Homo sapiens: one gene and its partners. The main gene of each other region encodes a partner of the protein of the gene in region 3 in a complex. Each region holds a gene or a part of one and is shown on either strand. Other genes may lie near its edges. The genes, in order: SART3, CDK9 and CCNT1. A codon is read from its position in the direction of its gene.

Region 1 (7,152 bases), about 60 Mb from region 3:
ATCTGCCATTTCATCTTTTAAAATTAAAAGAATGACGGGCACATGTGCTGTGCAGGGTGGAAGAGAAGTGTCATACAAAAAGGGGCCGGAGCTGGCCAGAAACATTTGGACAACTGTGTCTCAAAAACAGTGTGTTCTCGTTTCGCTTCTGTGCCTCAGTCTTTAAGATACAAAACTATCTCAGGACACCACATCCTGGGCCCAGCCTGCAGAGTGGTCACTTTTCTGCCACTGCCCTCAATATGAGGGAGCACTGAAAGGCTCTTGACTTAGAACCCCTTCCCCTTTCTGTCTAAAGCCGAGGAGCCATCTGTGGTTGCGAGCACGCAGCACACCAGGCCTGTCCATCCCCAGTGCACTGCTGGGTGGTGGGAGGTCCGCCGGGCCAGAGTGAAGTAAGGCATTTCCTGTCTCCCAGCGTCCCGTTCACTTTCTCAGAAACAGCTTGGCAAAATCGGCATTGGACATCTTGGGTGCCTCGGTGGCTGCTGGGGCGGCAACTGCAGGAGCCGCGGCAGGGCCGTTCTCAGCCTGAGGAGCTGCAGCACTTGGGCGCTGCAGGGCACGAGGCAGTAGAGACAGCTGCGTCCTTCCCTTCCCCCTCCTAAAAGAGCAAACACTGAATGGACCTTTTGAAGCAACAATTCGTGGCCCCTCATTTATTTGTGAAAATAAGCCAAGACAGTTTTAATATAACCAGAAGTTAAAAGGTGAAAAAAAAAAAGGATAAGATAATCCCTGCCTCCTTAATTCTGTTTATGAAGTAAAAACTGCTTCAACAGACTTGGCCTTGTTCAGTTTTGGCAAAGATCAACCCTGAGCACCAGTCACACTCAGAGGGGATCAGTGTGACTATCACCTCTCAGACCTCACCAGTCACCTGGCAATTCTGCTATCTCCTCCTCATCCCAAACCAGCGAACAGCACAGCTTATGTGGATCATAGCTAGGGCCGTAGACTGGCACACACATGGGTATGAGATTTCTTTGTAAACACACAGATCCAACTGGCAAAGGGGACTTTAAAATAATCACTGCCTTATTTCTGTCTGAAATAAATGACAAGTGTAAATTGGCCAGTACCAGGCAGAGGTCACTGCCTAGGCTTGCATCCTGCTCTGGACGCCTTGCTCCAGTGGAACCACAGTGATTACCACAAGGAACAGCACATCTTGGCTTTTCTGTCCTAACAGGAAGCTAATTCATCCCGGGTTAATCCCCCCGTGATCCATGAACTGGTGCCAGCCAGGACGAAGTTTGCACTAGTCTACCATGCAAGCACTTACGCTCCGTATGTCTGCGGCAAAAGCATGGGGCCACCTGGTGCCTTCCTGGTCTCCGGCTTCTCTGGAACTTTCCTCTGAGGAGGGTTGCTGATTGCCACTTTGATGATGTTCTCTTTGATAGTCATGCCGTCCATCTTCATCACAGCCTGCGACGCCTGGGATTCATTTTCATACTCCACGTAGGCCAGGCCCTGGAAGAGGCAAGATCCAGAACCAAGTCAGATCCCGCAGACTAGGGACGCAACCTCCTCCTGCAGGGCAGGCACTGGGCTTCCTCCCGGAGACCAGCAGACCAGGCCACAGCAAACGACCCACCAACAGGTTACCTTCCCCACCACCGCATCCTCTGTCTACAGGCTTATTTCCCCACCCTACTCTCCTTCCCGAGTGCTGCTATGCACTGTAACTTCAGATAACCCTTCCAAGTTCAGCACACCTTGTACGTGCTGCAGAAGTAGAAAGAAAGAAGGAAAAAGACAGATGGACCAGTATAAATCCAGCAAATAAACCAAGAGGTGGATGGGACACAGGGCCAGCAGCCCAGGTGCCCAGGTGAGCCCTCGTGTTTCTGTGCCTTCACCCGCTCCCTCATTTCATCCTCTTTTTCTCTCCATTAACCTGGATAAAGGGGAGGGAGAGTGGGCAGTGGGTAGACAGTAATGAAACCACTTACTACTCAAAATGGGGCACAAAAGGACTTAGCAGGAGACTGAGGGGGCAAGAAGGAAAGACAGGAGAAGAGGCACTGCAATGGAGGGACTCAAGGGGCCTGGTTGGAGGCCCCAGAGAAAGAGAGGCCTGGGACAGAGGGAGAAGGCTGCAGGAGGGCGCCCACCCCAAAGCCCGTATGCTGCTGGTCACAGGGCTTCCCCCAAGCCCCACAGCCAGGGGCCATAGTGTGGTGAATTCATGATCCTCTATTTCCAAGTGTCTTATTCTTTTTAGTACAATTAACTACAAACAGGTTAATCTGACTCCAAATATAAGTAGAGCTAAGTGCAGATCTTTCTGTGAAATTAACTTTTGTTTCTCAGCAGACAAACTAGGAACCCATTCTAGAGGTTAAATCATCTTTGAACCGATACAGAAACGAAGTTTGCCCAAGCCTTGAAGACAAGGCACAATCTGCTCTGACTCTGACCTTTGGTTTGCCAGCCCGGTTGGTGACCAGCCTGAGGTCCTTCACGGTGCCATGAGCCTTACAGATTTCTTCTAGTTCCTCTTTAGTACAGGAGAAAGGCAGGCCTGAGATGAACAGCTTGTGTTTCTCTAGGGAAGTGCTGTACCTGAACACCTATAGGAAGAAGGAAGACAGAGAAAAACCATGATTCGAGGCATGACCCAGCTCACCTGACTCCTCTGACACCAGCCTTGTCCCCATGAGCAGCCCAGCCAGGCAGACTAGAGCCAAGCCATGCTCTGAAACTTGTTAATGGGGCCACCGGAGCGAGTCACTTAACCTCTCCAGGCCTCCATGTCTTCCTCTGTAAAACGGCAAGAATAAAAGTAACCATTCACAGAGTCTCATGAGGAGTCAATGAGCTGACACACATAAAGCATTCAGCACAGTCCCTTGTCATTGCTAAGCACCCAGCAAGAAGGAGCCATGCCATGAGTCAGACCTCAGTCAACCGGCTCAGGATGGACCTTGGCTCACAAGGAAGTTTAGATCCAAACAGAGCGTAAAACTTCCATGTCTATCCTAAATATCACTGCTGCAGGAAGAAAGTGCCTGTCTAAAGCAACCACAGATGAAAGGCATTCTTTTTTTCCATAAACCTACCTTAAAATCGGGGTTTTTGCTCTTATCCACACAGGGGGAAACAAACATTGGCCTCCCTTCTACACTTTTCCGGTCCATCTCCAGTGCCTGAAGGGCTGATTTCTCTTCTTTAAACTCCACGTAGCAGTAACCTCGGAAATCCCCACGGTTGCTGAAGATGGGTCGGATCTGGACCACCTCCCCACAGGCCTCGAAGAGTGGCCTGAGCTTCGTGTCCGGCTCCTGCATGCTGTAGGGCAGGTTGCTGACAAAGACGGTGATGCTGTCCTTGCTGCTGTCGTGCAGCACCTTGGGCATGTCCCTCTTCAGGGAGGCTGCCTTCTCCTTCTGCTTCGAAGGGGGCTCCACATCTACGGCAGCACATTTCCCAGCGGGCCCTGCTGCTACTTCTACATTTTGTGTTTCTCCAGCTGCAGGGATGCTGTTCTCGACCCTTCTGCGTTTGGAAGGCTGCTCTACAGGTTTTCAAAAGAAAAGTAGCCATGGTTAACTGTTACTTCTCTTCAGGGAGCTTGAACAGAGGTGTGAAGTGAAAGTGCTGTGACAGCTGCATGTGACACTTACTCCCTCACCAGACTCGGAGGGGCAAGCACCACCCCGAGAAGTCTTTTGTGATCCGCCTGACCTGTCCCACGACTTTCTGTGCCCCAATTACACTCGGGTAAGTGGGCTCAATCAAGTGGAAGTAATAACATAAATCCCCATTGTCCACTCTTAATTATACAAAAGGTCAGTGGATCTCAAAGTTCAGAAGGCAAATTCCAGGGCCCCTCTCCTACAAAGCCCAGATCAGCAGGGTTGGGATAGGACATGAGAATCTGCACTGGAAAAGCACCCTAGTGACTGATACCCGTGCCCCAGGGAGCACATTTTGGAAAGCACTACAAAGGATCTGTGGTTTCTAAAACACTTTCAATATGGCCTTGTGTCCTTAAGAGAGCTTAACCACAATCTTCTACTGCAGTCTGTCCTCACCACTGCCTCCAGAGGGCCAGTACTGAAGCTCAACAGACATCAGCCTCCGGCAAACAGACCTCCCCATCAGTTCACCCGCTGCCTTTCCAATGCAACGTAAGCCCTGCACACTGCTACTGTATTCAAGAGTGTCCCTGGGCTGGGTCCAGCTGACTGGCCCACCTACCACTCCAGCCTCCTCGACCACTGCCCCACCCCTCTCTAATGCATCTGAGTTCAAACCCAATTATCTGCTGCTCACAGAAAATGCCAGGCTGTGCTGTGCCTTCAGGCTGTACTAACATTGGCTCCTCCCTGTGTAGCTCAGACCTTCCCTTCTCGCTGCCACAGTCACTCGGTCTTCCCCCTGGATGCCGCATCTCTTCCCCCACAGTCTTCCTGGTACGAAGTTGACCCACTAGTGCCTTCTTTGGCCTCCACCAGTATTAACAATGCCATCTCCCACAGTCCTGATCACACGCCATGCCCTGATCACACACCACTGCGGTCACACATCACATTTGCCTTATTCTGCCAAACTGGGAGGCCAGTGGAGCAATGAGCCATCCTCAGTCATTTAGGAAAGCCCAAACAAGGTGTGCAAGCAAGGTCAACTCAACGATGGATGACTCCATTCCCAGTTCTCTCTGGCTCACACATCTGTATTAAGAAAGTATACAGAGTCCTTTCAAGTCCAGAGACAATTCTTTTTTTTGTTTTGTTTTGTTTTTGAGACAGTGTCTTGCTCTCTCTCCCAGGCTGGAGTGCAACGGCATGATCTCTACTCATTGCAACCTCTGCCTCCCGGGCTCAAGTAATTCTCCTGTCTCAGCCTCCCGAGTAGCTGGGAAAACAGGCACCCGCCACCACAGCCAACTAATTTTTGTATTTTTAGTAGAGGCAGGTTTTCACCATGTTGGCCAGGTTGATCTTGACCCCTGACCTCAGGTGATCCGCCCACCTCAGCCTCCCAGAGTGCTGGGATTACAGGCATGAGCTACCGCGCCCAGCCACCAGAGACAATTCTTTACCTTGACTGACTCTCTGAAATAAATATGACCCAGAGCTGCCCGTCCCTGAAATTACAAGGGTGAAAGAAACACTGCTGGAAAATTCCACTAAGTCAGAACCATTAAAAGCAGGGCCAAGGCCAGGTGCAGTGTCTCATGCCTGTAATAACAGCACTTTGGGAGGCCAAGGCGGGAGGATCACTTGAGGTCAGGAGTTCAAGACCAGCCTGGCTAACATGGTGAAACCCCGTCTCTACTAAAATACAAAAATTAGCTGGGCATGGTGGCTGGCAAAGTGTAATCCCAGCTACTTGGAAGGCTGAAGGAAGAGAATCACTTGAACCCAGGAGGCGGAGGTTGCAGTGAGCCGAGATCACGCAACTGCACTCCAGCCTGGGCGACAGAGCGAGACTCCCTCTCAAAAAAAAAAAAAAAAAAAAGTAGGGCCAAGCCTGGCAGGTCTGTGCAGGGTTGGGGCTGCAGCAGTGGTGCGGGATGCTAGAGCCTGAATGGAAGGAAGAAGACAGGCAGGCATGGGGCAGTGACAGGGACCCAGCAGCCTAGATCTGGAAGCCTGAGTGAAAGAAGCAAGGGTGTCCATGCAGGGCCGTGCCTGGCCCCGGGTGTGGGAGACCAAACAGGGTGGGGATGGCACATATGAGAAGGGGAGGCAGGCACAGGAAGTTGATTACATACCTACAGGGGCCGGGTGGAGTAACTGAGGATGCTGAGAATAGAGGGAGCCAAGTTTCTCAAGGTCAGAGAAGGGCGTGACACAGCTGGGCACAGTGGCTCACACCTGTAATCCCAGCACTTTGGGAGGCCGAGGCAGACAGATCACTTGAGGCCACAAGTTCAAGACCAGCCTGGCCAACATGGCGAAACCTGATCTCTACTAAAAATACAAAAAATTAGCCAGGTATGATGGTGCATGCCTGTAATCCCAGCTACTTGAGAGGCTGAGGCACAAGAATCACTTGAACCCGGGAAGCGGAGGTTGAAGTGAGCCAAGATCACCCCACTGCACTCCAGCCTGGGCAACAAAGCGAGACTCTGTCTCAAAAATAAATGAATAAATAAATTTTAAAAAGAGAGAGAAGGGCATTGCAAGTGTGAAGGGGAACCCTGTGGTGTTAGACCGGAACTGGAGGTATTGGTGTGAAATCATGACTTTCAGTATATACAAATAGTTACACAAGTAAATATGGTCATAAATATGTGTACACATGCACACGCACACGCACACACACACACACTCCCTACCCTCGACCACTCAGGCCTCAGAACAATAACCAACAGCAGTGAGCACAACTAGCACCTTCTAAATACCACTCATCACTCAAAGGAACCTTGGAGAAATGATGGATTCCAGGGCTGAGTTATGGAAAGTATAAGATGACCCTTGGGTATTGTGTGCTAGAAGGTAAGGAAATGATCAAAGAACAAGGGGACAGGTCAAAGGGACATAGAAGCCTGTGTGAAGGAACTCTTGCTAGCCAAACCTGGGATAAGTAGAGAATCAGCATAAATAATTCTCAAAAGGGTCATCACCAGTGATGGAACAAAGCGAATCACAGTCCACCTGATGGGACTCAATGGGCAGGCCACAGGAGCACTTGTGCACTATTCCTGCCCGAGATGCATGAGTGGAATCCAATGCTTAGGGAGCATCAGACACACCCAGGCTGAGGGGCACAACACAGCAACTGGCCTGCCCCCTTACAAGACTGCAGGTCATCAGAGTAAAAAAAAAAAGCTGAGGAGTGCTCCAGACTCAAGGAGATCCAGGAGACAGGACAACTAAACACAATAGTGCATCCTGAACCGGATCCTTTCACTACAAAGGACATTATCAGGATAAATGGGAACCCATAGCTCATTGCTAACCCCGGCTCTGATGGCTGCATTCTAGTCATGTAGAAGAGGGCCCCTTGTTTGCAAGACATACACCCTAACAGTGATCAAAGGGTAATGGGTATCAAGCTGGTAACGGTTCAGGGAAGAAAGTTCTTCATACTGTATTCGCAACTTCTCTAACTTTAAGACGTTTCAAAACACAATTTCTCAAGAGCTCCTTACCTTCTTCATCATCGCCCCACTCTTTCTCATCATCCTCATCT
Region 2 (7,504 bases), on a different chromosome or scaffold from region 3:
CCGCTATGGATTGGCACATACCACGTGCCAGGTCCTTCCACCCACATCACCTGGAATATGGGCTCCAACCCTGATACACGTCACATTTCTGGTTCACAGAAGAGAAACCCAGCGCTGACTCAGATGTTCTGCCCAAGGCCACAGAACAGCTGATGGAACCGAGACTGGCGCACAGCCTGTGTCAGGTGTTTTTTTCTCCCACACACTCCCCACCCCAAGACAGGCCCTGTCACCAAACCAGCCTCCCTTCCAGAGAGGAGCGCTCCTTCCATTCTACTCCCCACTCCTCCTCTGCCGGGGGACCTCGATCTCTGCACCCCGTGGGGACCGGGGCCCCGTACCTCAGGGGTGATGGAGCCGCAGAGCTGACTGATGAGGGCGAGTTGGTGCTGCTCCGTGTTGCCCTGCATGATGGGGCTGCGGGTCCACATCTCTGCCATGATGCACCCAGCACCCCACAGGTCAATGGGGGGGCCGTAGTCCCGCTCCCCTGGGAAGAAGAGCGCACCAGGAGGGCCCCTTGAGCCCGAGGGCCTCCTGAGGCTCAATGCCCCAGGGCCGGCAGCTCAAGAAGCCCTGGCAGTTGGGGGGAAGGGGCCAGGTAGATGCCTGGCCCTCACCCCCCTTGGCCCGCTCGGGAGTCCTCACCGAGCAACAGCTCCGGGGGCCGGTACCAGAGTGTCACCACACGGTTGGTGTAGCGGTTGGGCTGGCTGTTCTTGGCCAGGCTGAAGGCCCGGGCCAGCCCAAAGTCTGCCAGCTTCAGGACCCCATCACGAGTGATAAGCACATTAGCAGCCTTCATGTCCCTATGCAGGATCTGCAGGAAGGGCAAGAGTGGGTCCTTTAGTGACATCCACCCGGGAGTGGGAGCCAAGACCAGCCCAAGCCTGGGTCCTCCTCCCAGCTCTGGCCCCCACCTTGTTTCTGTGGATGTAGTAGAGGCCGTTAAGCAGCATCTGCATCACCCTCTTGATCTCAGACAGCGTGAACTTGACCAAAACATTGCTCAACAGCCCAGCAAGGTCATGCTCGCAGAAGTCGAACACCAGGTATATACTACCCTTGCAGCGGTTATAGGGGGAAGCTGAGGCAGGAATAGAAAGAAGAAAAAGTCAAGAAAACCACACCCAACACACTTTCCCACAACCAGCTTCTTTCTTCCTGCTCCAACCCACGGGCACCCATGCCCTCCAGAGCATCTGTCTGTTCCTTCCTTCACCGGTCAAATATTTTCTGAGTGCCTCTTCTGGGCCAGGGCAGGCCCCGAGGAAGCACCAGCTACGATGAAAGAGGACCAGAAAAAGCAGTCACCATGGGTCCATCTGAGTTAAGAAGAGGCAGTTTAGGTGTGCCTAGTTCCAAGTTTACAAACAAAACCTTAGGCTACAAGTGTCATCTTCTCGTAAGAACCAAATAACTTACCTTTGGTTCGACAAATCTCAATCAAGTTGACCACATTCTCGTGTTTTAGAAGCTGAAGGATCTTGATCTCCCGCAAGGCTGTAATGGGGAACTGGGTGAGAAAGAGGGGAAAGTGGTCAAGAGTGAGCGCAGTACAGAGCCCAGCCCTGGGGTCTGTACTGACAGCCAAGTTGGGAGACAGAGCAAGATCATGGGCTCTGAAACCAGCTGTCTCAGAAGCCTTGTCTATAAAATGGATATTAGTAGCATGCACACTTCAAGATGATGGTTTGAGACAACAAACTGAAACAGCAATACTTTGCTATTAGCCACTAAACGCTCGGCGGTTTCAGTCTTCAAATTTCAGCTCTATGGCTGTTTCGTTGGCAACAAACATGATGATTTAAAAATGTCCTTGCTAATGCACATTACGCAAAAGAAGGTTTATGGGAAGTTGTACTAGAGCTAAGATGGGGTGGAGAAGGGACCGCTCCTTTTAAATACATTAAATAATTGAGTATCAGACACCTTTCAAAAAGCATGCATATATAATCTTTCTTTTACATTAAGCGAAATTTAACACTAAAAAAAGGTGTTTAAAGGCTTCCTAACTTCGTGAAATAAAGTGCACACGATGCATGCATCAACTCCCCCTCCTGGCCTCACCCATAACTGCCTAAGAATGAAACATTTAGTTTTAGGGTGGAAGCCACATTCCCTGGAAATTTCTGAACTACTACAAAAAAATTAAATCTCAACCTGAGACTCCCAGAAGCAGCAGGGTGGAAAACCGACCCGGGGTCCCGGGCAGTTAGCCGGCCGGCCCGCACGCCCGATCCGTACTCACCCCCTCCTTCTCGTTTTCCATCAGCACCTTCTTCAGAGCCACCTTCTGGCCGGTCTTGCGGTGCCTGGCCTTGAACACCTCCCTGCAGGCGGAAAGGGAGACCCGAGAACTCATCAGGCCATTTCCGCAGGGCCCGCCCCTCCCCCACTACAGGAGGAGGGGCAGCAGCAAAGAGATTCCCGGGCGGGGCTGGGCTAGGTACCCAGGGCACGCGGCTACCCCGCCACCCGGCAGCCTGTCTCGTTCGGAGCCTCTGCTTCCTTCCCTCAGTCCCTTCTCCTCACTTGGGCGTCCCTTGGAGAGATCCCGCTCCCCTCACGGGCGCCTCTCTGCAGCCCCTCCCCGCCCCCACCACGGGCCTCAGGCTCCTCCCCACCAGCCGGCTCCGTCAGGCCGGGGCGGGGTGCGGCGCGGCCTAGAGACCAGCAGGCAAGCCCGGGGACAGACGACTTCTCTACCAACTCGGGGGGGGCCCGGGCATCCCGACGTCGGCCCTAGGGGTGCAGGCCCAGGGCTCCCGGCCCCGAGGGGCCCAGCCTTACCCGAAGGTGCCTTGGCCGATCTTGGCGAGCTTCTCGTATTTGGAAACTTCATCACAAAAAGGGCACTCCACCGAGTCGTACTGCTTTGCCATGGCCGCCTCCAACGCGCCGCCGCCGCCCCCAGTCGCTGCTGCCGCCGCTCCTGCTCCGGGTCCCGCCGCCGCCGCACTCCAGGCCCCTCCGCGGCCGCGCCACTTCCGCCTCCACGGCCACTTCCGGCCTCGCGGCGCCGACCCCGCCTCTTCCGCCCGCCGCCCACCGCCAGGCCCCCTGGGACTTGTAGTTCCCGAGAGGCCAGGGGGAGCCGGAGCTGCAGAGGCGCCTCCGCCGCCGCCGCCGCTGCCCCCGCCTCCGCCGCCGCCACTACTAGCGGCGGCCCCGATCGGGGGCGCGGGGAGCCGGGGCGCCGGAGCTGGGGCTCGGGGTGGCGCGTCCCGCTGCATGGGCCCGGGCCGCCGCTGCTGCCGAAGCTGCTGCCGCTCTGGCGCCCGATCCGGGGCCAGCCGCAGTGCCCTGCTCCTCCTCCTCCGACGGCGCCGCCTCCGCCGGGCTGCGCGGGGCGGCGGGCGGGGGGTCAGCCCCCGAGCCGCGGCCTGGGAGCTCCCTGGCCGGACCCGGGCCCGGGGCGGCCGGGCGAGGGGGCGAGACGGGAAGAGCCGACTAGGAGACGGCCCGAGAGCCCAGGAGGGGGCGCGTTATAAAGGGGGAGGTGCCCGGCCTCGCCCTCCCCTCCTCCTCCGCCCGCCCCCGCCCTCCTCCCTCCCACCCTCCGCGGCCGCACCTGCCGCCGCCGCCACCGCCCGCCCGCTCGCTGTCCGCCGGCCGCCCTCGGCGCGTCACCGCCCGCGGCCCCTCCTCCGCCTTCGGAGGTGGGGCCCCGCGCTCGGCACCTGGCTGCGGGCGCCCTGCCGCGTGCCTCAGTTTACCCCCACATGTCGGCTGCAGCGGAAAGCCCCTTCCTCCCCGGCTCGGAGTGCCCCCACAGAGGCGAAGGCGGGAGGCGCGGAGGGAGCGTCCTCCGGCCCTGGGAGGAGAGAACGGCCCCCGCCTCCGCCTCCCCCGGTCCCCGCCACCCTCCGTTGACATGGCAACCGACGGCCGCCAGGGGGCGCGGCGGCACTAGCGGCGACGAGCAAGCAACGCCCGGGCCTTCTATCGCTGGGGTCTGGCTCTCCGGGAGGCAGGGATGGGACCCGCAGGACTCCCACCTCCGCTGAGTCGTGCCAGAGCTGGTCGGGCCCCGAGTCAGTAATCGCAAAAAACAGCTACCATTTTCTCAGCACTCTTGTGTACTCAGGAAGTGCTGGGCGTTCCCGCCGAATCCTGAATCAACAGCCCCATAGTCAGGATCACTAACCCATTTTGCAGAAGAAGACGTTGAGGCTCAGAGGTGAGGTCATTTGCCCAAGGTCACACGGCGACAAAGTTGGGACCCGAACCTGGGTGTCTGAGTGAGGGGATTCTCTTGACTCACGCTATTCGCTGTTGGGCCAGGAGGATAGCAGTGGGGAGGCCTGCTGTCCTTATGCAGGCGCGAGCTCACCGTTCACCCCCCCCATCTCCCTCCCCCATCGCGCCCATCCCTTCCCTCGCATCTTCCTGGCTCCAGCGGCCCCCAGATTCCCCCTCCAGCTCTGCCCAAGGACAGCCTCCAGCAAAGCCGTCTTTTCTGCCTCCTCTGCCCCGCTTCAATCTGCCCCCTCCTCTCCAGCCCTCTGCGGGTGGATCCTGAGACCTAGCCCCCCAGTCTGGCCTCTCTGTCCCCGAAGAACCTGAATGTGACATTGGAGGCTCTTTCCAGTTCACACCCCACCCCTCAAGCTGTGGCCATGCAAATCTCTCTACTGTCTCCCCAAGCCTTTCTGCGTTCAGGGCGGTGCTCCCCTGATCCTACACTCCCCCAGACTCTCGTTACCCTCTCTTCCTGCAAGAAGCCATTGGAGTGGGCGCGGTGGCTCACGCCTGTAATCCCAGCACTTTGGGAGACCAAGGCAGGCGGATCACAAGGTCAGGAGTTGGAGCCAGCCTGGCCAATATGTTGAAACCCCGTCTCTACTAAAAAGACAAAAATTAGCCAGGCGTGGTATTGGGCGCCTGTAGTCCCAGCTACTTGGGAGGCTGAGGCAGGAGAATTGCTTGAACCCAGGAGGTGGAGGTTGCAGTGAGCCGAGGTCTTGCCACTGCACTCCAGCCTGGTGACAGAGAGAGATTCCGTCTCAAAAAAAAGCCCTCGGGGTGGCTCCCAGCTCTCACCCCACACTGCTTAGCCTCAAAGCCTCCTAGGAGGAGGCAGGAATGGCTTTGGTGACCTTGATGTCACAAGAGGTCTTGTTCTGGGGAAGGGCACTACCAGGGAGGGGCTGGAAGGTCAGGCTGAGGAGGAAGGAGCCCTCTCCTGAGAGTAACGTGAAGCAAGAGAGGGGTTTAGGCAGTTAGTGACGTAGGGTCGGCTTCATGGCTTACACTATTAGAAGCAGGAGGCTGTTCCCTAAATTGGAGGTGGGGAGGATAAGGAGTGAGACCATAAAAATTTTAGTAATGACAACTTATTGACGGAAAATAAATGGTCCAAGCCCTACACTTGGCACTTTATGGGAATTATCTCGGTTGCCACTCAACCACATGGGTACTGTTGTCACCTCCATTGTACACATCAGGATCCCGAGGTGACATCACTTGGCCTGGGTCAAACAGCTGGTCAGTGACCATACTGGTATTTGAACCAGGTCAGTCTGGCACAAACCCCAGCACTTCCCCATCTCGGGGCCCTGCCCATCTGGCCTAGGGGTGGAGCCACGGCATTGCTGGGGTCTGAGCAGTAGTGCGGTGGGCGGGGATCTGCGGTGGGCTTGTGTGGCCTCCATTATCCGACTACATCTCAAGCCAGGGCCTGCCGTTTCCCATGAGCCCTCCCTAAGTCACATCCTGTGGGCAAAGGCCCTAGCAGAAGTTCCGGTGGAGTTGTCACCTACACCCCGCCATCCCTCGTCTGAACCCCAGCATCCGCCCGCCACTTCCCCTTGGGGCCTCAGGGCCTCAGTCCCCACTGTGGGATGCAGGCAGGCAAGAGAGGCAGGAAAGGCCGGAAGCCTGTCAGAAAGCTACCCAGGCTGCCCAGGTCCGGGGCCCCAGATCACCAAGCTGGCAAAACCCAGGCAGAAATAAGAAGAAATGAGTGATTTCTCATTGACTGGAAACGTTTCCTGCTTCCCAGGGGTCGGCTAAGCTGGCAAGGCTGGGCATGTGGCCAGTCCTTGGTAGATGTCTGCCCCAAGAGAGCCGCTGGTCCTGCTGCCATTTAACAGAGAAGGTGAGGGCAGCACAGGAAAGGGAGGCGCTGGACAGCTGTCTGACCCCAGCCTGGACCCCCTGTTTTCCTCTGAGCAGAGACAGACGGGAAGCATAGGAGGGAAGGAGAAGATGGGTTCATGGAATGGGCTGCTCTTGGCTTTTGGTGCATCTGAAGAGACAGTGGGTCAACTGGATAGCAGGGGTACAGGACGGAGAACAGCCTGTGATACCCACAACCCTCTAAAATCACAAAAGTTGCCTGTTTGCAGTGGCTCATACCTGTAATCCCCACTTTTGGAGGAGGAGGCAGGTGAATCACCTGAGGTCAGGAGTTCGAGACCAGTCTGGCCAACATGGCGAAACCCCGTCTCTACTAAAAGTAGGAAAATTAGCTGGGTGTGATGGCGTGCATCTGTAATCCCAGCTACTTGGGAGGCTGAGTCAGGAGAATCACTGGAACCTGGGAGGTGGAGGTTGCAGTGAGCCAGGATTGTGCCACTGCACTCCAGTCTGGGCAAGAATGAGACTCCATCTCAATAATAATAATAATAGTAATAATAATAATAATAATAATAATTGGCCGGGTGCGGTGACTCATGCCTGTAATCCCTGCACTTTGGGAGGCTGAGGCAGGTGGATCACCTGAGGTCAGGAGTTCGAGACCAACCTGGCCAACATGATGAAACCCCGTCTCTAATAAAAATACAGAAAATTAACCAGACGTGGTGGCGCCTGTAATCCCAGCTACTCAGGAGGCCTGAGGCAGAAGACTCACTTGAGTCCGGGAGTGATTGCAGAGTCTGAGCAGGTTGCGGTGAGCTGAGATCTGGAGACTGCACCCAGCCTGGGCAACAAGAGCGAAACTCTGTCTCCAATCAATCAATTAATCACAGAAGTTCTGCCCACACTAGCCAGGAACTGACTCAGTGCCTGGCCTGGGGTTGACTTGCATTGTCTCCCTGAAACTCTCCAGCAGCCCTATTAGGAGGTTGTTATTATTAGACCCAAGTTACGAAAGGGGAAATTGAGGCCCAGATTGGTGTGGCCTGCCCCAGGCTACACAGCCAGGAAGCTATGAAGCTGGGATTTAAAGCCAGGTTTCTTTACTCTCAAAGCCCAGGGTCATTTGCCATCATCCCACACTGTCCCCAATGTCAGGTCAACTGAGGGAGAAGCATCTGTTGAGCACCCATGATCCAGTCCTCATATGGAAGGGGGCTAGTGTGGATGGGTAAGGCCCCGGCCTCTCTCAGAAGGCTTCAGGTCTGTTCGGAACATGCAAATAAAGACACAAGGGGATTAAATCAAAATGATACTCTTGGTATAAATATTTTATTTTGCTGCCATGAGATCATGTAAGGGATGTTATATTTATCCTATTTTACTGATGGGGAAAAAAAAAAGAGGCTCAGAGAGGTGA
Region 3 (7,152 bases):
TCAAAGATAGTAATGCTAAGAGCTGTATTTCACCAGGAGTCAAAGAAATACATAAATAATTTTACAGAATTTAAATATATATTTCATTTTACTGACTAGAACTGATATTCTAATACTTATTTGTAACCCTGATGTCACCTATGCTATACTTTTCTAGAGTAAGTTTTTCTCCACAAATTCAACTCATAGTATTGATTTCAGACAAGACCATAGGAGACAAAAATAATTTAAAACAAAATTTTTTTAGGCCAGACACAGTGGTTCAAGCCTATAATCTCAGCACTTTGGGAAGCAGAGGCGGGGGATCACTTGAGCCCAGGAGTCCGAGACCAGCCTGGGCAACATAGTGAGAGAGACTCCATCTCCATACACATACGGAAAAAACTGTTTTAAGTAAACACAGTGATTCTTTTCCTTCACATTTGTTTCAGATGAATATGAAGCATACTACATATATATTCCTCAGACTTTAGGATAAACAAAACAGGATCAGAGAAAAATGGATATGAACAAAGGTATGGTGATCTAGGCGTAAAGCACATTTTCAATACTAAACTGAGTAGTTAAATACATTAGATAATCGGATGTGGAACACTAGATTTTTTTTCTTTCTTTTTTTTTTTTTTTTGAGACAGCATCTCACTCTGTCACCCAGCTGCAGTGCAGTGGCGTCAAAATCACAGTTCCACTCAACCTCCTGGGCTCAGGAGATATTCCCATCTCAGCCTTCGAAGTAGCTGGGATCACAGGCACACGCCACCACACCCAGTTAATTTATTTTTATTTTTAATAGAGATGGGGTCTCCCTACATTGTCCAGGCTGCTCAAACTCCTGGGCTCAAGTAATTCTGTCTCTGCCTCCCAAAGTCCTAGGATTACAGGTGTGAGTCACCTCACCCAGCCAAGATTCTTAACAAGAGTGACACTAAAGATTTTGAAAAATATCGTTTAAGAAATGTTTATGATAAATGTATATAACTATTATGTACCCATGATAATTAATAAAAATAAATTTTTAAAACAAAGTAATATTTAGAAGGAGTAATCTGATGGTAGGTAAAACTAGGAGAAAAGGATGGGATACATTAAAAGTTAATTCAGGCTGGGTGTTGTGGCTCACGCCTGTAATCCCAGCACTTTGGGAGGCCGAGGTAGCGGATCACTTGAAGTCAGGAATTCAAGACCAGCCCGGCCAACATGGTGAAACCCCGTCTCTACTAAAAACACAAAAATTAGCCGGGCGTGGTGGCACACACCACCACTCAGGAGTCTTGTAGTAGGGTAGTCCCACCTACTCGGGAGAATTGCCTGAACCCAGAAGGCAGGGGTTGAAGTGAGCCAAGATCATGCCACTGTACTCCAGCCTGGGCAACAGAGCCATACTGTCTCAAAAAATAAAATAAAAGTTAACTTAAATAATAATTTAGGCATTAGGACATAAAGTTTAGAGCACTTTGGGAGGCCAAAGCAGGAGAATCACTTGAGCCCAAAGTTCAAGATCAGCCTGCGTAACACAATGAGACCCTGTCTCTGTTTTTTAAAAATTATTTTAAAATATAGAAAAAAGAATTTTAAAAAGTTTAGAGTAGGCCGGGCGTGGTGGCTCACGCCTGTAATCCCAGCACTTTGGGAGGCCAAGGCAGGCAGATCACCTGAGGTCAGGAGTTCAAGAACAGCCTGGACAACGTGGTAAAACTCCATATCTACTAAAAATACAAAAATTAGCCAGGAGTGGTGGCACACGCCTTTGGTCCCAGCTACTTGGGAGGCTGAGGCAGGAGAATCGCTTGAACCCAGGAGGTGGGGGTTGCAGTGAGCCAAGATCACGCCATTGCACTCCAACCTGGGCCACAGAGCGAGACTCTGTCTCAAAAAAAGAAAAAAAAAAAAGTTTAGACACTAGCAGTAGAAATAAAGGAAAAAAGAAACACAGGCATCACTTTGTAAAACTAATAGGGCTGCACTAAATATATGTACATGTACTTGCATACAAAGAAAAAATTCTAATGGGATATACTCTAAAATGTTAACAGGATTATCTCTTTATTTCCTGTCCGTCCTCTTCCAATTTTTTGATAATTTAAAAAGTACATATTTATAAGGAGAGGGAAAAAATGGTAACATTATAAAATTAGCAAGACTTTATAGGCTGGGTGCAGACTCTTGCCTATAATCCTAGCACTTTGGGAGGCCAAGGCAGGAGGATCCCTTGAGCTCAAGCCTGAGCAACATAGCAAGACCTCATCTCTACAAAAAATCAAAAGGAAAATTCACTGGGCGTGGTGGCACTGTAGTCTTGGTAAGGTGGAAGGATCACTTGAGCCCAGGACATGGAGGCTGCAGTGAGCTATGATTGTACCACTGCACTCCAGCCTAGCCTAGGTGACAGAGTAAAAACCTATCTTGGGGTTGGGGGGGACTATAACTAACTGAACAAAGGGGAAAAGGACAAGTCAAAGACTAAGGTTTTAAGCCTATTAGAAACTAAAAGTATGGCATAAACTAATAAAACCAAAATAAAACTAAACTAAATTATGGCACCACTGCACTCCTGGGCAACAGAGGGGACTCCGTTTCAAAAACAAAGAACTAGATAAATGTTTCTTGAGGTAATTAATATTTGTTGTTTGTTAGGGTGGAAAGAAAAGGACCCTCACCTACAGTGCTGGAAACAATGTATAATCTTTCAGTAGGGCAAACTGACACTACAAAAATTTTTATACATTGTATACTCTGGGCACAGCAATTCCACCTATAGGAACTTGTATTAAAATGCTTATATAAGTGCACTATATATGTACAAGACTATCCCATGAAACATAATGTACAATATAATAAACTAGAACAACAACCCAAATAGCTATCAATAAAAAGCTGGTTAAATAAACTACAGTAACTACACAAATACCATGTGGCAAATTAAAATAATAAGAAATCCAAAAAATAATAAAGGGAAGTATGGAAAGATGTCCAATACATACTGTTACATGATAAAGGCAAGCTGTGCAACAGTAGCATAGCAAGATATGATTTTTTAAATAAAAATACCTCAATGCTAGTTTATGTGCACAGAAAAATGTCTGGGTCACTATAAACCAAACATTTATCAATGGTTATCTCTGGGTGGGATTACAGAGTAGTTTTCACTTTCCACATACATTTCTGTACTGTCTTAATTTTTACCATGGGAATTTATTATAATATCTTTGGGTTTCTTCATTTTTTTTTTTTTGAGATGGAGTCTCACTCTGTCACCCAAGCTGGAGTGCAACGGCACGATCTCAGCTCACTGCAACCTCCACCTCCCGGGTTCAAGCAATTCTGCCTCAGCCTCCCAAGTGAGTAGCTGGGACTACAGGTGCACGCCACCATGCCCGGCTGATTTTTGTGTTTTTAATAGAGACGGGGTTTCACCATGTTGGCCAGGATGTTTTCGAACTCCTGACCTCAAATGATCCACCCAACTCGGCCTCCCAAAGTGCTAGGATTACAGGCCTGAGTCAACACGCCCAGCCTCTAATACCTTTGTAATAAGAAAAACACACACACACATACAAAAATGCCTGAGGACTTGACAGGATATATAACATATCAATGCCACATTGATTATTAGGCCACATTTAATGTATTAAGTCCTCTCACATTTAAATTTGGATTCATCACAGCTAAACTTAGAATTAGTATGTTAAAAGGTGATATTAAATCTGGAATCTGTTGATTCCAAAATGTGCCTAAAATCAATCCTCTAAAAAGGATCAACAACTTCAAATTAATCAGTGGATTTTGAAAAAGGTCATGACATCCAAAAGAATATCCCTATACTAGCCAGGTGCAGTGGCCCATGCCTGCAATCCCAGCACTTTGGGAGACTGAGGTGGGAAGACAGCTTGAGGCCAGGAGTTTGAGACCAGCCTGGGCAACAGAGCGAGATCTCCCGTCTCTAAAAAATAAATATATATAAAAATGTTTGAAAGAATATCTCTATATTGGATAACTACCAGATCATCCATTCATTCAATAAGTTTACTGAAACTGCTTTAGAGAATATACAGAAAAGGGAATCTCTGTCCTTGTTAAGCTTAACAGATAAGAAATAAAAAGATATGGCCTGGCACAGTGGCTCATGGCTATAATTCCAGCACTTGGTAGGCCAAGGCGGGTGGATCGTGAGGTCAGGAATTCAAGACCAGGCTGGCCAAGATGGTGAAACCCCGTCTCTACTAAAAATACAAAAATCAGCTGGGTGTGGTGGCAGGCGCCTGTAATCCCAGCTACTCGGGAGGCTGAGACAGGAGAATTGCTGGAACCCAGGAGGCGGAGGTTGCAGTGAGCTGAGATCGCGCAGCCACTGCACTCCAGCCTGGGGGAAAGAGAGAGATTCCAGGTCTCAAAAAAATAAAAAAAGATATAACTTAAAAGATAAGGCTGGACGCGGTGGCTCACACCTGTAATCCCAGCACTCTGGAAGGATGAGGCGGGCAGATCATAAGGTCAACAGTTGAAGCCAAGCCTGGCCAACATAGTGAAACCCTGTCTATACTAAAAATACAAAAATTAGCTGGGTGTGGTGGCGGGTGCCTGTAGTCCCAGCTACTTGGGAGGTTGAGACAGGAGAATCGCTTGAACCTGGGAGGTGGAGGTTGCAGTGAGCTCAGATGGCGCCATTGCACTCCAGCCTGGGTGACAGAGTGAGACTCCATCTCAAAAATAAATAAATAAATATATAAATAAATAAAAGTTAAAAGGAGGGGAAAATATATATTAACCTATACATGAAGAGTGGACAAACTGATTTGAGAGTTTCTTTTTTTGATTTGAGATTCACTTCACCCCAAATTTCAAGTCTTTATCATAATAAAAGGGAAGAATTATAGAAAACCTTCAGAACTGGCAAAATGGCTAGGAATTTCCTCTTCAAATTTCACTTTTTAACTACTCACTACCTTCTATTCTGGTGCTATCAGATAGCCTCGTTAAATGCTAACAGGCTTCTCTCTCTTTTAATAAGAAGGATATACTCCTTGCAATCAGAGCCAGAGCAAAGCTCCAGGGCATGACTAGAGGTACAGGGGCTAAGGGCAGAAGAAAGCCAACCTGGGTGGATCATCAGCAAAAATCTTTTTCTTTTTGTTTTGAGACGGAGTCTCATTCTGTCGCCCAGGCTGGAGTGCAGTGGCACGATCTCGGCTCACTGCAAGCTCCACCTCCTGGGTTCATGCCATTCTCCTGTCTCAGCCTCCCGAGTAGCTGGGACTACAGGCGCCCACCGCCACGCCCGGCTAATTTTTTTTGTATTTTTAGTAGAGACGGGGTTTCACCATGTTAGCCAGGATGGTCTTGATCTGCTGACCTCGTGATCCGCCCATCTTGGCCTCCCAAAGTGCTGGGATTACAGGCGTTGAGCCACGGCACCTGGCCCACAAAAATCTTAATTCACAAATCCAAAAAGTTTCCTGTGCAGTTACTCCCAATACTGTTTCTGCCAGTTTCTTACATTTCAGGAGCTATGTCTAGCTTCATAAACTCTCTTTCTACAGCATTAAAAAAGTAATAATAAATCTGAAAACCCACCATTCTAAGGATACGAAATAAGCATCCTCAAAAGCATAATCTTTTTCTTTTTGAGATGGAGTTTCGCTCTTGTTGCCTAGGCTGAAGTGCAATAGCGATCTCGGCTCACCACAACCTCGGCCTCCCCAGTTCAAGTGATTGCCTCAGCCTCCTGAGTAGCTGGGATTACAGGCATGAAACTCCACGCCTGGCTAATTTTTGTATTAGTAGAGATGGGGTTTCTCCATGTTGGTCTCAAACTCCCGACCTCAGGTGATCCGCCCGCCTCAGCCTCCTAAAGTTGTGGGATTATAGGCTTAAGCCACCGTGCCCAGCAGGATAATCTTTTCCTTAAAAAAAAAAAAAAATAAAAAAAAAAAAAAAAAAAAAAAGCAGGGAAATACTTGACTCACAAATCCATTTGAAGTATACAGCCGGTGCAGTGGCTCACACCTGTAATCCCAACACTTTGGGAGGCTGAGGCGGGCAGATCACCTGAGGTCAGGAGTTCAAAACCAGCCTGGCCAACGTGGTGAAACCTCGTCTCTACTAAAAATACAAAAATTAGCCAGGTGTGGTGGCACATGCATGTAATCCCAGCTACTTGGGAGGCTGAGGAAAGAGGATTGCTTGAATCTGCGAGGCGGAGGTTGCAAAGGGCCAAGATCGTGCCATTGCACTCCATCCTGGGCAACAAGAGCGAAACTCCATCTCAAAAAAAAAAAAATCAATCCATATGAAGTACTCATCAAGTTTATCCCTATTACCTTGGCGTTTTATTAAGTAAATACAGTCCTTCCTAGAACTGGGATATCACTATGCATTCAATTCCAAGTCATTTATAATAATGTTAAATAGGACCATTTCAAATAGCTACACTGAAAAGATCACTATTTATAATTCTGTACAAAAAAATAAAATTTCTTTATTAGTATAATTTTATTCTTCCTGTTCTTTGTAAAATTTTTTTTACCTTTTTTTTTTTTTTTGTAGAAACGGGGTCTCACCGTGTTGCCCAGGCTGGTCTCCAACTCCTGGGCTCAATCAGTCCTCCCACCTGAACCTCCCAAGGTGCTGTGATTATACATAAGAATGAGCCACCATGCATAGCCTATTTTTCATGTTCTTAAAAGTCATTTTCCCAGTTATTATTACATAATGTGCTTTCCCCTCCAACTGCTGACTGGAATTTTATCAAAGGCTTTTGGAAAATCTAAGTAACTTACATTTACTTCTTTTGCTGTGACCATATTTTATAAACTACTTCAAAATTAATGCCAGGAATGGCGGCTCATGACTGTAATCCCAACATTTTAGAAGGCGGAGGCGGAAGGATCCCTTGAACCCTGGAGTTTGAGACCAGGCTGGACAACACAGGGAGACCCCATCTTCACAAAAAAAATTTTAAAAATTACCAGATATGTTGGCAAGCCTGTGGTCCCAGTTACTTGGGAGGCTACGGCAGGAGGACTGCTTGAGCCCAGAAGGTTAAGGCTGCAATGAGCCATAATCAAATCACTGCATTCCACCATGGACAACAGGGCAAGACCCTGCCTGTCTCCCTACCCCAGCAAGAAAAAGAAAGCTATACCTAAATTCCAC

What was found.
Region 1: CCNT1 (region 3) and SART3 share a complex: the UniProt entries of both Homo sapiens proteins name them as parts of the 7SK snRNP complex.
Region 2: the proteins of CCNT1 (region 3) and CDK9 are in contact, whole or in part, in a crystal structure (PDB 3BLH), measured with the Homo sapiens proteins. Residues at the interface, in NP_001231.2 of Homo sapiens: Arg5, Lys6, Arg11, Trp12, Arg26, Ile72, Gln73, Phe78, Phe89, Leu90, Lys93, Val94, Pro98, Lys99, Lys100, Leu101, Val134, Glu137, Ile139, Leu141, Gln142, Thr143, Gly145, Phe146, Glu147, Leu148, Thr149; in NP_001252.1 of Homo sapiens: Val8 (codon at 2,864), Glu9 (codon at 2,861), Cys10 (codon at 2,858), Pro11 (codon at 2,855), Phe12 (codon at 2,852), Cys13 (codon at 2,849), Lys56 (codon at 2,260), Glu57 (codon at 2,257), Gly58 (codon at 2,254), Phe59 (codon at 1,516), Ile61 (codon at 1,510), Leu64 (codon at 1,501), Ile67 (codon at 1,492), Lys68 (codon at 1,489), Gln71 (codon at 1,480), Leu72 (codon at 1,477), Leu81 (codon at 1,450), Ile82 (codon at 1,447), Glu83 (codon at 1,444), Ile84 (codon at 1,441), Arg86 (codon at 1,435), Ile99 (codon at 1,058).

What each region holds. Positions count from the first base shown.
Region 1 is NC_000012.12:108,523,031-108,530,182, forward strand, and holds part of SART3 (spliceosome associated factor 3, U4/U6 recycling protein), read right to left. Parts: coding exon 7,112-7,152; intron 3,524-7,111; coding exon 3,069-3,523; intron 2,580-3,068; coding exon 2,427-2,579; intron 1,477-2,426; coding exon 1,286-1,476; intron 605-1,285; coding exon 427-604; 3' UTR 1-426. UniProt on the Homo sapiens protein: U6 snRNP-binding protein that functions as a recycling factor of the splicing machinery. Promotes the initial reassembly of U4 and U6 snRNPs following their ejection from the spliceosome during its maturation.
Region 2 is NC_000009.12:127,781,530-127,789,033, reverse strand, and holds the start of CDK9 (cyclin-dependent kinase 9), read right to left. Parts: upstream 3,001-7,504; 5' UTR 2,886-3,000; coding exon 2,794-2,885; intron 2,334-2,793; coding exon 2,252-2,333; intron 1,517-2,251; coding exon 1,426-1,516; intron 1,088-1,425; coding exon 921-1,087; intron 821-920; coding exon 649-820; intron 491-648; coding exon 342-490; intron 1-341. UniProt on the Homo sapiens protein: Protein kinase involved in the regulation of transcription.
Region 3 is NC_000012.12:48,706,677-48,713,828, forward strand, and holds part of CCNT1 (cyclin-T1), read right to left. Parts: intron 5,901-7,152; exon of another isoform or gene 5,575-5,900; coding exon of another isoform or gene 5,572-5,574; intron 1-5,571. UniProt on the Homo sapiens protein: Regulatory subunit of the cyclin-dependent kinase pair (CDK9/cyclin-T1) complex, also called positive transcription elongation factor B (P-TEFb), which facilitates the transition from abortive to productive elongation by phosphorylating the CTD (C-terminal domain) of the large subunit of RNA polymerase II (RNA Pol II).